Linked DNA regions of Homo sapiens: region 2 is linked to region 1. Evidence: fine-mapped expression QTL. A gene starts in region 1. The other region holds a variant in brackets. All regions are shown on one strand. Distances are from middle to middle.

Region 1 (2,941 bases):
AAAGAATTATTATAATCTGAAGACCAGAAAACAAGTTTCTATTACAAAAGTAAGCAATACTCAAGATCAGTTATTTTTAAGCATATAGCACATTGTAGTCATAATTAGCTCACCACCAGTTAGAAATATACATACACATTTTTCAAAATAAGTCTTTTAAATATAGTGTTGCAAGTATCTTTCTAGCTTAAGAATTTGAAATAGCAATTAAGTATGAACCTTAAATAATTCATCTTTATAACTAGAAGAGCAAGTCCCAAGGATGTAAATCTCACCCAATGAGACAAGGGATGCTGAATATATTATTAATTGCTAAGTAATCTCTTAATCTTAGAATCTAGCACCCAACACTAGCAAATAAATAATGTGATTTATGAGCCTGCACTCTCACGCTGCTTTACTAGAGTTCAATAAACACATGCAGATCCTAAATGTACAGTGTGAATGTGATTCCTACAAGCCAGAAAACATAGAAGGATTTGGCTATAGCAAATCTACCCCATCTACTTATTATTCAAGCACTAGTATTTAGAATACCTAAAATTCCTGCTGAACACTGCGGATCAACGTCCCCCTGAGGTTCTCCAAAGCAGAACCACATCTCTTCCCCTCAGTGCTTACTGAGTTTTAAGAAGGCAGGTAACATGGGGTAGAAATTCTCGTGCAGCAGCAATATAACTCTTCTCTCCCAATTTTCAAAAATCAACACCTCCTCCCCATACACACGCACACACACACACACACACACACACACACACACACACACACACAAGAAAGGAGGGCTTTTTAAATAAGTGTTTAAAACATACCATTTGCATGGGTGTGAAAAATGTATTTTTCCTCTACTTGCTGTTGTTGTGTAAGATATTTACAGATCTGACTAGAAAATCTGGATGTTCATAGGAAGTGTTGCTTTCAATGAGATTCCTTTAGTGAAATCTGTCCGCACAGACACATGTATACATAAATAATACATATTTATGCACACATGCCTACATTAACAAGGACACATGCACACGCACCTAGACCAATAATTAAGCCCACACTGTTCTATAAGCTCTTTTTGACATTTTTTGCATACATGTTAATTCAGAAGACAGATTTTTAAAAAATAATAAGCAGCTGCATATAATGCACATCAAAGTGGCACGTTTAGAAAAGCAAATACATTACCAGACGCATTTTGAAGTTTCTGGAACACCTGCAGGTGAAAGGAGACTGGATCGGATGCTGGCACACTGTATTCCTCAGAATCACAGAGCGCAATGTGACTGTGGGGGAATGTGAGGCGAGTGTGAGGCTGGAAACCTTTGAGTTGAGCTCACTCTAGGCATCAGAAAGCCTCAAAGAGGGGAAAGAAAAAGGCAGCCCACAGACAGCTAGATGAGAAACTTCTGGCACCTCTCCAGCTCAGGAATGAATTCTCTGTAATTTGGAGACGTATAGTGATGGAAATGAAGAGAAACTTGGATTTACGGGTGAATTTGCTCAGCCATGCAGAAACAGGCAGGTAACAGCCTCTCAGCTCATTTTAAAACAGTCATTGAGAAACAAGACTGAATCAAAAAATTAAGAGGCATCCTGCTTTTGAAAAAATGAAAAGGCTACTCCAGCCAGCTTCCCTAGATACCTTTACAAACTTCAAATGGATCATTCCATCAGCTATTTGTTGCGCATTTTATTAATCCCAGTGCAGAGGTAAACTGGAAAATCTAATTCCTTTTATGTAGAAAACTAGATTTATTGCTTCTTTTTATAATGCACTTTAGACATATAAACACATAGATTTACTTGCAGAGTTCTCGTTTCTCATGTAAAACCACTACTGTTTGGTCCAGATAAAATGCTAAAAGGCTTGTTCACAGCTTTTCAAGGAAGTGGAGAAAAAAAAATGTTTAATACTCAGAAGCTGAGCTGAGTACTGATATTTAAATGTACAGTTTGAAGCAAAGAGAATATAAAGGAAGAGCCCTGAAACATTAAGTGGTAGCTAAGAGGTACGATTATATACAAGCATTGAGCAGGCAGGTGGCTTAAGTCTATAAATTTATACATAATTAAGCATAGGAAGAAAAGAGATTTGGCAAATTAAGTTATTAGAGACAATAGCTGTTATTTTGTTTAGGTTTACAAATAGGCTAATAATTTCTGAGGAGTGCACGTGGACATCACCTTGTCTGAAGAACTCCTAAACCTCACAAATAGAGAGCGAGGTCGAAGGCATTGCACAGTGGCAATCTATATTCAAATGTAATGAGGAGGAGGACAATATTACCATGAAGAATGTTGTCATATTACATTGTGCCTGTGTGGCTTAACTACTCATCCAACCTTGCAAATGGCCATTTGCCTGGACTCAATAGCAAACGTGCTATTGATGGGTGGGAGGAGGTGGGAGGCTGATTTTATTTGTTTTACCAAGGACACTCCTTTGGGAGGTTCGGGGATAAAATGCCTGGGCTGAGCATGGGAGTCATTCTGTTCAAGGCCACACATGCCTATAGTAAATTTGAAGTGGAATTAATGATGACCAATTAAGCTATTTATTATTTTAACTCTTGAGGTCAAGGGCAGAACAGTATTTATGTTTATTGATAAAGAGTCAATGGTCAGACTGCTGCAGAAGGCCAGACTCACCTTTAAGCACGCTCGATTGATACGTATTGACCGAGGCACCGCCAGTCCCCCTCACATTCCACTGCTCAGGCCTGTTTGCCTAGATTCTGTTCTTAGCTCTCCACTGCCATTTGTTTCATCCATTTGTTCAACAAATATCCACTGAATTACACATCAGATGCTGTGTAGAACACAATGACCCTTAAGATGAGAACTCCCTCAAGGGGCTTACCATTGTCAAATAGTACCACAAGGGACTCAGCAGGGGATGGACACAACAGAATTACTTACAAAATTCATGCTCACTGCCATCTCTTGCACTGTG
Region 2 (2,941 bases), 800 kb before region 1:
TCAGACTGATCTGAGGAAATAAAAAGTATGTATAATATTATAACCACTTAAGAAATGGAAGCTGTCGTTAAAGCAAATACACAAAGTAAACACCAGGCCCAGAGAGAAATGAGTCCTACCAAGCTTTATAGAAACAGATCATAAAAATATTATGTAAACTTTTCTTAGACAATATGAAAGAGAATACTTCCCAATCCATTTTTAAGCCAGCATAACCCTGATACTAAAACCAAGCAAAAATGTCAGAAGAAAAGAATACAATAGATTCATGTCAATCATGAATATAAACCTAACAATCCTAAACAAAATGTTACAAATAAAATATGAATTTTATTTATAATTATTTACTCAGATTTTATTTATAATATTAGTATCTGAAAAAATATAATACTCCAACAGTATCTGAAAAAATATAATACTCCCTAACCACTTTAGGTTTAGACTGGGTATGCTAGCATGGTTTAATATTTTGAAAATCTATAAATGTAATTCATTAATTCATATAATAGATTAACAGAGTGAAATTGTACTTTTTCTTCAACTCAACAGATGAAGAAAAAGCATGTGATACAGTTAAATACCCATTCATGATAAAAATTCTTTGTAAGTTATACCTGGGAGGGAACATCATCTCATAAAGAGAATCATTAAAGGAAACATAAAATTAACATCATCTGAAATGGGAAAACAGTAGAAACATTTCATTTAATATGAGAAATTAGCTAAGGATTCCAACTACTACTATTTCTAATCCTCACTGTATTAGGGTACCTAGCCAATCCAATAAGACAAAGAAACCAAAAGCATGAGAATTGAAAATGAATAAATAAAGCTGCCATTATTTGTAGATGATATCATTCTTTAAAAATCCCAGGGAATCTACAGACAACTTTATTAGAAATAATAGGAGAGTAGAGAAGTAATAGGAGTAATAACAAAGTGGCTGAATATAATACTAGTATACAAAGTTAATTGCATTTCTGTTCACCAGCAGCAAATGAGAAAGCATTACTGAAGAGAATTTATCAGAATAGCAAGTATCTAGAAATAAATATAACAAGAGATGTGTAATATGTCTAAACCTTATTAAGAAAGAAATAAATATAACAAGAGATGTGTAATATGTCTAAACCTTATTAAGAAATACCTAATAAGATCTAAATAAGGGGGAGACAGACCATATTCATGGATAGAAAGACAATGAGAAAATGTAATGCTTCCTAAATTGGTCTATAGAATCAATGCAATTACAGTCAAAATTCCAAGAGAGTATTTTGTTGAACTTGATTATATTATTTAAAGTTTATGTGGAGGAATAAAAAAAGCCGTAACAGGCAGCATACTTCTGAAGAAAAAGAATAACAAAAAGGACTTTCCTGTCCAGATATCAGGACTTATTTTGAAGCTATTGTAATTAACACTATAGTTTTGCTGCTGAGATAGAAACAATAATAAAATAGAATATATTTCCATTAACATACAGTATATATGGGAGTAGTCTATAAGATCAGTGAGTAAAAGAGGGATTGTCCAATAAATATGAT[A/T]AAAAAATGGTCATATATAAGGAAAACGATCAAATTTGACTTCTCCATACCATATCAAGAAATCAACTTTTGACTGATTGCAGACTTTTAAAAACTCAACACTTTCGACTCTTGGTAGGAAATCTAATGAATGTCTATTGGATCTTGGGGGAGAAGAAAATTTCTTACACAAGATACAGAAAGCCATTGACTAGAAAAGTTTGATAAAATTCAGTATAAAATCAACCTATAAAATTCAGAACTTCTGGTCATAAAACACATATTAAAAAAGTGAAAAATAAGTTACAACCTGGGAAATGATATATGCAATACATACAGTGTATTAAGGATTAGTATCATGACTGAAGAACTTCGATAAGTTGATGAGAAAAGCATAAAGAATCCAACAGCAATTTGGCATAGGACCCAAACAGATATTTCACAGAAGAGAAAACAAATACGGCTAATATACACAATAAAAATCATTTTATACCTATTCAATCTTCACAAAAACTTAAAAGAATTGGCAATATCAAATGTTAGTAACGTTATGGATCCACAGGATCTCTGAAACATTGCTGGTAGGAGTATAATCTGTTGCAACCATGTTGGAAAACAGTTTGACATTATATTCTAAGTGTAAACAATCATGTATTTTCCTAGTAATTCTACTCCTAGGTATGCCCCAAAGAGAAACTCTTGCATATGTATAGCAGAAGACATATACAAGAATGTTTATACGTAGCATTGTTTACAAGAGCAAAACCTTTGAAATAATCCAATGCCCATTATCAGGAGAGAGGCCAAATAAATTGTGGTATATTCACACACTGGAATACAAATGCAGAACATGGGGAGAAAGGAGGCAATTCTAATTTCAGGACAAAAAATAAAATTTCTCAAGTAACCATAGTTTACTACGTGGTTCAGTGGGAATAATGCATAATTTACACTTGATCTTAGCTAAAAGGCTGAGAAGCGATGAATAATGCATAATCTTAATAATGTAAACATTAAATAGCTATTTGACTCTAAATTGTGAAATTACTCTAAAGGAAGAATAGAAGAGATGACAGTCTTTGGGAGGGCTGTAAAAAAAGAGCTAAATCACTATCTTTTTATAGCAGGTAGTCTGATGGTTAAAATAAAAACTAAGAAGATAAGCATTTTATTTAGAGATATGTAGGTAAATACCAGAAGAAACAGTTAAGGAGTAAAAAGTTATTTCTTCTGGAGAGTGGCACAAGGATAATATAAATATATCTGGAGTATACATATACACACACACACACAAAGACACATATATATATGTATACATCCATATATACCTATGTACATATACATATATATGGGTTATATATAGGTATGTTACATATAGATTAATATTAGCTAATATATACGTATGTTATATATAACCC

The links. PIP is the estimated chance that this variant, and not a neighbour inherited with it, causes the effect.
Region 2: its variant is fine-mapped to the expression of IQCJ-SCHIP1 in lung (TOPMed, PIP above 0.99).

What each region holds. Positions count from the first base shown.
Region 1 is chr3:159,067,674-159,070,614 of GRCh38, reverse strand. IQCJ-SCHIP1 (IQCJ-SCHIP1 readthrough) reads right to left here and starts at 1,296. Exons shown (of 10, transcript NM_001414413.1): 1 at 1,174-1,296. The coding sequence starts at 1,182. IQCJ (IQ motif containing J) reads right to left here and starts at 1,296. Exons shown (of 4, transcript NM_001042706.3): 1 at 1,174-1,296. The coding sequence starts at 1,182.
Region 2 is chr3:159,868,073-159,871,013 of GRCh38, reverse strand. The region is part of intron 5 of IQCJ-SCHIP1 (IQCJ-SCHIP1 readthrough); the gene reads right to left. All of the region lies in intron 3 of SCHIP1 (schwannomin interacting protein 1), which reads right to left. Among named protein-coding and RNA genes, the nearest start is that of IQCJ-SCHIP1-AS1, 100 kb to the right of the region's middle. The variant A/T (reference allele first, on the strand shown) is at 1,545.